Homo sapiens: one gene and its partner. The protein of the gene in region 2 purifies or fractionates together with the protein of the main gene of each other region. This does not show direct contact. Each region holds a gene or a part of one and is shown on either strand. Other genes may lie near its edges.

Region 1 (5,397 bases), on a different chromosome or scaffold from region 2:
AGGTGGAGCCCCCTTCCCCGTCACAGCCCGGCTCTCACCTCAGTGATGACGCTCAGGACCCCTCGGATCCGCTCCGAGGTGTGGAAGCGGCCGGGGTTAGCGCTCACAGCCTCCAGGACACGGCCCACAAAATCCAGGTCATGGATGGGCTCTGCCCACATGGGGCCACCAAGCTGGGGGCGCACCGGGGACAGGTGAGCAGGGACTATGACCTTCAAGACCCTCTTGCTCCTTTGCCTCCCCTGGCCTAGCCCTACCTGGTGTCGTTGCCCACAGTGTTCACACTCGGGGGTCACAGGGGGACCACAGGCTGCAGAGAACTTGGCCCTAAACAGAGAGGGGTGGTTGGTGGGGAGGGAGGAAAACCCTGGGACTCCCCTTCTTCTCCTTCCTCCCTGCTCACCGGCCGCTGGGGACTCCTGACGCTTTGCCGAGACGCTGAAGGTGGAAGGCCCCGCAGCCCACACACTGGAACACCAGCGCCTGCTTGCTGTGGGGGGTACCAGTGGCCACGAGTTCCCAGCGTGACCACGACACCCCAACTCCTCCCTTAGACTGGCTCTGTCCCTTAAGAAGCCCCAGATCCCCCAGGGCAAGGTCCTGTCTCCTCTCTCAATCCACCACCGCTCTCTGCCCCCGGGCTGACCTGGCTGAGGCCTTGACCTTGGCCTGGCCGGTGAAGACACGGACAAAAACACGCACGTAGAAGTCAGCGCTGATGCTGAGCAGCGGCACCACGAAGCGCTGGTAGCAGTTGGCGCGGAGGTCCAGGCTGTGCAGGACGATTCTCAGGGCCTGGGGGTGGGGGGTGGGTGTCAGCCTCCCCTCCACTATCCACCCACCCCACCAGGAGCCCTATGTGGTACTCACAAGTACAGGCTCAGGGCCAGCTCCCTGGGATCCAAGCCCACCCCTGAAAGTCCTGGCTGTGGGACCCTCAACAAGTGAGTATCCCCTCTCTGTGCCTCAGTTTCTTCATCTGCAAAATCACAACAGTCCCTGTCTGTGGCACTGCTGGGGGCACTAAACGAGTGAGGAAAGCATAGATCCAACCTATTCTGACCAGCATTATCGGTGTGCCATGTGGCATGTACTGAGGACCCACGTTCCAGCCCCCAAGGGCTCTGTGGGCAGGAAGTGGGGATACTAGGTGCTGTAGAACTGCTGGGGCCTGGGCCGGGCGTGGTGGCTCATGCCTGTAATCCCAGCACTTTGGGAGGCTGGTCAGGAGTTTGAGACCAGCCTGGCTAACATGATGAAATCCCCGTCTCTACTAAAAATACAAAAAATTAGCTGGGTGTGGTGGCGGGCGCCTGTAATCCCAGCTACTAGGGAGGCCGAGGCAGGAGAATCACTTGAACCTGGGAGGCGAAGGTTGCAGTTAGCTGAGATCTCACCACTGCACTCCAGCCTGGGCAACAAGAGTGAAACTCCATCTCAAAAAAGAAAAAAAAGCAAAACGGCTAGGGCTTTCCTGCTAGTGTGAGACTCTGATATGGGAAAGGAGACAGCATTTCCCGGGCTGACTTCATGACAGGACCCTTTAGGAACAAGGGCAAGAGCCCTCTGTGGACCACGCTGGAGTGCAGTGGCACTATCAAAGCTCACAATAACTTTGAACTCCTAGGCTCAAGTGATCCTCCTGCCTCAGCCTCCAGAGTAGCTGGGACCACAGGCATCCACCACCACACCTAGGTAATTTTTAGGGTTTTTTTGTAGAGATGGGGTCCTCGCTATGTTGCCCAGGTTCCTGACCTCAAGTGATCCTCCCACCTTGGCCTCCGAAAGTGCTAGGATTACAGGCATGAGCCGCTGCACTTCGCCACTCAGCCTTCTTGAATCCTGATCAGACACTCAATAGGGTCAGACCATTTTTTTTTTTTTTTTTTGAGACAGAGTTTTGCTCTTGTTGCCCAGGCTGGAGTGCAATGGTGCCATCTCGGCTCACCGCAACCTCCACCTCCCGGGTTCAAGTGATTCTCCTGCCTCAGCCTCCCGAATAGCTGGGATTACAAGCACCCACCACCACGCCCAGCTAATTTTTTTTTTTTTTTTTTTGTATTTTTAGTAGAGACGGGGTTTCACCATGTTGGCCAGGGTGCTCTTGAACACCTGACCTCTTGAACACCGCCCACCTCGGCCTCCCAGAGTGCTGGGATTACAGGCGTGAGCCACCGCGCCCGGCCTATTTTTTTTTCTTTTTTTTGAGACAGAGTCTTGCTCTGTCGCCCAGGCTGGAGTGCAGTGGCACAGTCTCAGCTCACTGCAAGCTCCACCTCCTGGGTTCACGCCATTCTCCTGCCTCCGCCTCCCGAACAGCTGGGACTACAGGTGCCCGCTACCATGCCTGGCTAAGTTTTTGTATGTTTAGTGGAGATCAGATTTCACCATGTTAGCCAGGATGGTCTCAATCTCCTGACCTCATGATCCGCCCACCTCGACTTCCCAAAGTGCTGGGATTACAGGCGTGAGCTACCACGCCCGGCCTATTTTTTTTCTTTTTGAGATGGGGTCTCCCTCCCAGGCTGGCGTGCAGCGGAGTGATCTTGGCTCACTGCAACCTCGCCTCCTGGGTTCAAGTGATTCTCCTGCCTCAGCCTCCTGAGTAGCCGGGATTACAGGTATCTGCCACCATGCCTGGCTAATTTTTGTATTTTTAGTAGAGATGGGGTTTTACCATGTTGGCCAGCTGGTCTCAAAGTCCTGACCTCAGGTGATCCACCTGCCTAGGCCTCCCAAAGTGCTGGGATTACAGGTGTGAGCCACTGCGCCCGGCCTTCAGACCATCATTGTGCCCATTTTACAGATGCAAAAAAACCCGAGGACCAGAAAGGTGAAGTCACTTGCCCAGAGCTACCAGCAAAGCTAGGATTTAAACCCAGTCCTGGAAAAACGACCTTTAAAAAAAAAATTTTTTTTTGAAAAGTTGTTTTAATACAGAAAACTAAAATAATGTGGCCATGCACTCCTGTCCTGGCCAAAGCCACTGTCCCCAAATGACCATGATTATCAGCCATGCTCTTAGGAACTATGTGGGTTGAAGACACGCCTGTCGTTAACAGCCTGGGATGCATCTGGCCATCAGCCTGGAGGAAGCTGAGCAGGTCTGAGGAGGGGGAAAGTGTATTGGGAAGGGACTCAGACAACCACCTGTCCCCCGGTCTCCCTGGCTGGCTGGCAGAGGGCCCCTCACCATCTCGTGGCAGGCCCGGCTCTTGAGGGCCATGGCCCCGTACTTGCTGTAGCACGTCTCCCCGCTGTTCCCCGCCAACACCGCCATGTCTGTGCAGGTCACACACAGCAACCCTGCAGAGAGGGGCTGGGCAGTGAGAACCCTCCAACACCCCAAGCCCTGCTCCCACCCCAGTGCCATCCCCACCTCACCTCCTTCACTCACAGCCTGCACAGCTGCATCCAGGAAGGTGGCTGGGCTGCCATAGGGGTCCAGATCGATGACGTCAAACCTCTCCGACACCCTCTGGTGCTGGTACATCAGCATCCTGGGTGCAAAGAGGGCCAGGTCCTCAGCCTCCCACGCCAGGTACCTTCTCTGTCCCCTACACATATTAACTCGTACAGCACAGTGGTTTGGGTCTGAACTCCGGGGCCAGATTCCCAAGTTCAAGTCCTGGCTCAGTCATTTATTTATTTATTTATTTTATTTTTGAGTCGGAGTCTTGCTCTGTCAGCCAGCTGGAGTGCAGTGTTGTGATCTCGGCTCCCTGCAACCTCCGCTTCCCCAGTTCAAGCAATTCTCGCGCCTCAGCCTCCCGAGTAGAGTAGCTGGGACTACAGACATGTGCCACCACGCCCAGCTAATTTTTGTATTTTTAGTAGAGATGGGGTTTCAACATGTTGGCCAGGCTGGTCTCAAACTCCTGACCTCAAGTGATCCATCCACCTCGGCCTCCCAAAGTGCTGAGATTACAAGTGTGAGCCACTGCACTGGCCTTGGTCATTTATTAAACTGCACAATTTTCCTACTTAGGAAAAGCACCATGTGGAACTCAGTCCACACATCTAAAACAACAACAATACTGATATAAGACGTATCTGCCTGACACCATTTCAAGCAGTTTATAGATGTATTAACACATTTTTTTTTTCCTTTCTTTGGAGACAGAGTCTCGCTGTGTCACCCAGGCTGGAGTGCAGTGGTGGGTTCTCGGCGCACTGCAACTTCCACCTCCTGGGTTCAAGCGATTCTCCTGCCTCAGCTTCCCAAGTAGCTGGGATTACAGGCACGTGCCACCATGCCTGGCTAATTTTTATATTTTTAGTAGAGACGAGGTTTTACCATGTTGGCCAGGCTGGTCTCGAGCTCCTGACCTCAAGTGATCCGCCCACCTCGGCCTTCCAAAGTGCTGGGATTACAGGGGTGAGCCACTGCGTCTGACCTCATTTTAAAATTTTTGTAGAGACGGGTTTCACTGTGTTGCCTAGGCTGGTCTTGAAATCCTGGCCTCAAGCGATCCTCCTGCCTTGGCCTCTCAAAATGCTTGATTACAGGCATGAGTCACCATGCCCAGCTAATTACTTTTCATTGTCTGTGATTACTATTTGGATTCTAGTAAGGTCAGAAAAGTAAAAACTTTTTTCTCTGTAAAAGGTCAGAAGGTATTTTAGGCTTTGTGAGTCATATGTGGTCCCTACTGCATAGTCTTCTTTTTTAACCTTTAAAAATGTAAAAAACATTCTTGGGTTGTGGGCCATTGATAAACTAGGCTAGGCCGGGCGCAGTGGCTCACGTCTGTAATCCCAGCACTTTGGAAGGCCGAGGTGGGCAGATCACTTGAGGTCAGGAGTTTGAGACTAGCCTGGCCAACATGGCAAAACCCTGTCTCTACTAAAAATATAAAAATTAGCCTGGCATAGCCAGGTGCAGTGGCTCATGCCTATAATCCCACCACTTTGGGAGGCCGAGGCGGGCAGATCACGAGGTCAGGAAATCGAGACCATCCTGGCCACCATGGTGAAACCCCATCTCTACTATAAATACAGGTGGGTGTGGTAGCAGATGTCTGTAGTCCCAGCTACTCAGTCGGGAGGCTAAGGCAGGAGAATCACTTGAACCTGGGAGGCGGAGGTTGCAGTGAGCCAAGATCACGCTAGTGCACTCTAGCCTGGGCAACAGAGCGAGACTCCGTGTCAAAAAATAAATAAATAAATAAAAATAAAAATTAGCCAGGCGTGGTGGCACGTGCCTGTAATCCCAGCTACTCGGGAGGCTGAGGCAGGGGAATGGCTTGAACCCGGGAGGCGGAGGTTGCAATGAGCTGAGATCGTGCCACTGCACTCCAGCCTGGGCAACAAGGGCGAGACTACATCTCAAAAAACAAACAAACAAGCAAACAAACAAAAAAAGGCTGTGAGCCCCACAGGCTATAGTTTGCCAAC
Region 2 (4,746 bases):
TGAGCAACGATTTACATTTAACCTAGAAGCTTCCAGAGAGATGGTGGCTTACTCTAACTGAAAATCTAATGCTGCATATTATAGCACCTCTACAAGTCAGTGGAGGGCAGTATTATGAGTAGACAGTTCTTTCAGCCTAGTAAATTATACCAGCCTGACTTTCTCTAGGATGGGTTTGGTTTTTATTCCAGGTGATTGATTGAAAATGAGACAGTAATAGATGTGACAGCCCTCACATTGTCACATTGTGATATTTAAATACTTAAGAATCAGGAAAATGCATATTCCTGACTTCCTGCAAAACTAAAGTGCCTCAGTGGGACCAGTTTAAAGTGTATGTATTTGGATATAAGGGACTTTTCCTTCTGTGACCAAGCTTCCTTGCCACCTGTCCCCAACCTTTATGTCTGACTTTTGTTTTTGTTTTTTTTATGGTTTGAAGTTTTATACAGGCAGTGTGGCATAATATAGTGGTGAAGTATAGGCTTTGGAGACAGACTACCTGAGTTCCACTCTTGGCTCTATTACTTAATAGTTCTTCAGTCACAGGCATATTGCTTAACCACTTGCCTATCTTTAATACCCACTTAATGGCATTGTTCTGAGTCAGTGGATTTAAAGCTCTTACAACAGTGCTGGCCACCTAGAACTTACTCAGTATCTGTTATCACTTACCTGATTTTTTAGTGTATACCACTGAAAATCCTTTTGGGAAGTGTGTGAGGATATATTTAAATATATCGGAGTACACATAATTTTTATCCCAATGGTTTACTGATAGTTTAAGGCCCTAGATAGAAAATGGAAGGGATAGGAAATTGTGTTCATGAAAATACAACAAACCTGTTCATAACAGGCAGTGGAAATAGTACTGTATGTACTACAGAGCTGGACTCTTCGAGAAAGGACATGCAATCAGAATTAAAGATTGTCAGATAAATGATTACTCTGGTGGCATGAGCTATGCATTCTCAGCTCAATTATTTCCTCCTTTAATGTATTAAAGGATTATGGGTACAGAGCATTGTCAGGAATTCAGAGAAGTACATTTGAGTTTTCTCCTCAAATGTAACTGTGCAAATACATGAGCAAAATTAAAAATTCACCTTGCACCGCTTGAAGGAAGAAGGCATTGTGTGCCAAAGAGGCTTGAGATGGTTTCAGGAAGAAGCCAGATTTCAGTGAAATTTGGAAGTGAAGACAGAATTGAAAAGGAGACCACATCATGTTTATATGTACAGATGTTTATTAAGTATTTCTTGAGTGAGCAGTACAGCAGGAGGTGTGTTCATGGAACAATGAGTATACCAGACTGCCTGGAGCAAAGGATTTATAGTAGGTGGTTAAGACTTAATGTGTTCCATGGACAAATAATTTAAGATTATTTGTACCATCTACTCCTAGTTTTTCAGGTTCACATACGAAAGGGAAATCTCTTATGCTGTTTGATACAGACTTCCCCCAACTTACTGACTGCAGAGTTTTTTCTTAAGAAATAGTAATATTGTATTCTTATTATTATCATCACTGATACACTAGTGTTCAAAGGAATACAATTTGGTAAACATTGCTTTATAATTCTGAATAGCTTTCATAGTAAGAAATTATGTGTTTCTGGGCACAGTAGCTCATACCTGTAGTCTCAGCAACTCAAGATGCTGGGGTGGAAGGATCACTTGAGGCCAGGAATTCAAGACTAGCCCGGACAACATAGCAAGAACTCATCTCTAAATAAATAAAAAATTTAAAAATTAGCCAGGTGTGGTGGCATGCACCTTCAGTCCCACTACTTGGAAGGCTAAAGTAGGAGGATCGCTTGAGCCCAGGAGTTGGAGGCTGCAGTGGGCTGCGATCAAGCTACCTGGGTGACAGAATGAGACCCCATCTCTAAAAAGAAAAGAAAAGAAATTATGTGTATATGAACTAGGTGACACCAGTAGCTTGAGGTATGATCAAGCTGCCCAGGTGACGGAGTGACCCCATCTCTAAAAAAATAAAAAAAAAGAAAAGAAAAGAAATTATGTGCGTATGATCATGGAAAGATGCCTAGAAGGACATTTATGGAAAATGTTCATCTCAGAGTAGCAGGATTTCAGGTGATTTTCACTTTCTCTCCATTATTTGAACAAAATTACAATAAATGGTGACTGTCCTGTTAGGCATCTTGTCATGTACATATGCACAAAAGGATACATGTTTACTACTCTACATAAATAGGATTGTCCTTAATGTACTGTAGCATTGCTTTTTTTCTACTCAACAATGTCATGAATCTCCTTTCTGATCAGTTGTTACAATATACATTATAATTTTCAGTGGTTGCCACATTATATGTATGTACCATTATGCAACCAGTGCTTATGGATGAATATTTAGATAATCCCCAATTTTTTATTTTAAAAAAGAACTATTCTTTGAACATCCTTGCATGGTTTTTCAAACTTAACTATATGACCAAGCACCACAGTCACAGTATCACAGTTTCTTCATCTGCAAAATGACAGTGTTATAGAGCATACTTAGAAAGATAATTCTGAAGTTTAAATGATACATAATACAGAGCATATCCAACTGCCTGGCACATATTAAGTACTCAATAAATATTAGCTATATCACCATTATTATCACTGTTATTCTACTACTACTACTATTACATCTTCTTAGGATAATTTCCTAGAAGTGAGATTGCTGGGTCAAAGGTTATGTACATTTCATATTTTTGATACATGATTGCTAAACTGTTGCCCCAAAAAGTTACTTCAGTTTCTGTCTTCAAGAGTACTCATTTTCCCATCCACTTCTTCCTTGCTCAGTAGAAGAGGCTTCCCTCTTCCTGCAAGGGTTTATCCTCTCAGTTCCTTCCTCCTCAAGGATCACACTCTGCCCACTTCTCATTTTTATCTTCTGCCTACTCATCTGCCGGTTCTTTCCAGGAGATTCATTTATCCCTTCCCCAGACACGTTTGGAAGTCTTTGCATCTCCCATGCACTTGCATGTACTTGGCCCCGGGGATTACAGCAGTGAATACGACAGGCAAGGTCTCTGACCATTCATTGTGAGAAGACAGATGGTTAATCAGTAAACAAACTGGATAATGTCAGATCATGACTGGTACTGTGATGGACATAAAACAAAATGTTTTGCTTTAGAGTGAGAGAAAAGTAGTGGCTACCCTAGCTAGGTAGTCAGGAAAGGCCTCTCTGGGAAAGTGATATTTGACTGTGGGGCGTGAGTGATAAGAATGAGTGATAAACGCAGGGTGAACAGCAATTCCAAATGTCCTAAGGTGAGAAGCAGCTTGGTGAGTTTGAGCAGCTGAAGGAAGGTCAGTAAGCAAAGAAAGCAGGCAGTGACATCAAAAAGGTAGGTAAGGGTCAGATTGTGTAGGAGCCTTGGATGCCAGAGTAAGGGGGTTAGAATGTATTTGAAGTACAGTGCAAGCAACTGAGGAGTTAGCAAAGAATTTACATTTGTCTTCTGTGTGGAAACGGAAGACAGAGTGGGAGGGGCGACAAGAATGGAAACAAGACCTGTCTACCAGATTGTTGCTGTGGTCCAGGCAAACTATGAATGAAGTAGACAAATATGTGATACAATTTAGAGACAGAATTGTCTAGCTTTGCTGATGGATTAGACTAGGGAAAGCTACCTAAGCTTCTTAGATTTTTGCTGGGCATGAGGCAGATTCCCCTTAACTCTTGGTCCTTTAGCTGCCACTGTTTCTTTTCCTGTACAGCTGAACTTCTTGAAATAATGGCCTACACTTGACACCTCTGCTTCCTCAGTTTCCAGCCCCACTCTACCCTGGCAGACGAGCATCTGCTCCTGCCTTCAGCTAGGATTGCTGTCCCTGGGTTCACTGATTTCTCATAATCCTGATCACCTGTTAGTCCTATAGCATTTGTTATTTTACATATATATATAATTTATATATGTATATATGTGTATATATACATATAATTTATATGTATATAAATTATGTATTTATATGTAAATATATAATATATATTATATATATATTTTTACATATGTATGTGTGTAAAAAATAATTTTATTTTAAAGACAGGGTCTCTCTCTGTTGCCCAGACTAGAGTGCAGTGGTGCAATCTCAGCTCACTGCAACCTCTGCCCCCTGGGCTCAAGCAGTCCTCCCATCCCAGCCTCCCAAGTACCTGGGATTACAGGCACACGCCACCACACCTGGCTGATTTTTGTATTTTTTTGGTAGAGACATGTTTTGCCATGTTGCCCAGGCTGGTCTCAAACTCCTGTGCTCAAGCGATCCTCCCACCTGAGCCTCCCAAAATGTTGGGATTACAGGTGTGAGCCACCATGCCGGCCCTATAGCATTTGACACTGTTGAAACTGTTTCTTTCTTGAAACTGTACTTCTTTGGCTTCCTTGACATAACTGTTGTCCAGATTTTCTCTGAGGATGTCTACTTCATGGGTCTTCTCCTCCGTCACTTTTTAAATGTGAAATCTCTGCTCCCTGTCCCATTTTCTCTTCTCAACCTGTACTGCCACCCCAGGTGATCCCATCCACCATTATGGCTTTAGCTACCATTTACTGTATCTTTACCTCAAGGCCTGGTCTTTTCCATTACTCCAGGCTGTGTATCCAGCTCTCTGGTGGAATCCGCACTTATGTGTTCCTTAGGTACATCAGCACGTTCCAAGCTGAACTCCTTACTCCCCTCCTCCCTCCACTTCCCACCCGCTGTGACTCACCCACCCACTGAGCTG

The links. The genes of interacting proteins can lie anywhere in the genome.
Region 1: the proteins of THUMPD2 (region 2) and TRMT1 fractionate together in Homo sapiens (co-fractionation; one large-scale study listed by BioGRID). This does not show direct contact.

What each region holds. Positions count from the first base shown.
Region 1 is NC_000019.10:13,109,512-13,114,908, forward strand, and holds part of TRMT1 (tRNA (guanine(26)-N(2))-dimethyltransferase), read right to left. Parts: intron 3,501-5,397; coding exon 3,385-3,500; intron 3,307-3,384; coding exon 3,194-3,306; intron 796-3,193; coding exon 647-795; intron 491-646; coding exon 404-490; intron 328-403; coding exon 258-327; intron 174-257; coding exon 39-173; intron 1-38. UniProt on the Homo sapiens protein: Dimethylates a single guanine residue at position 26 of most nuclear- and mitochondrial-encoded tRNAs using S-adenosyl-L-methionine as donor of the methyl groups. tRNA guanine(26)-dimethylation is required for redox homeostasis and ensure proper cellular proliferation and oxidative stress survival.
Region 2 is NC_000002.12:39,737,878-39,742,623, reverse strand, and holds part of THUMPD2 (U6 snRNA (guanine-N(2))-methyltransferase THUMPD2), read left to right. Parts: intron 1-1,223; exon of another isoform or gene 1,224-1,727; intron 1,728-4,746. UniProt on the Homo sapiens protein: Catalytic subunit of the THUMPD2-TRM112 methyltransferase complex, that specifically mediates the S-adenosyl-L-methionine-dependent N(2)-methylation of guanosine nucleotides, most probably at position 72 (m2G72), in the U6snRNA of the major spliceosome.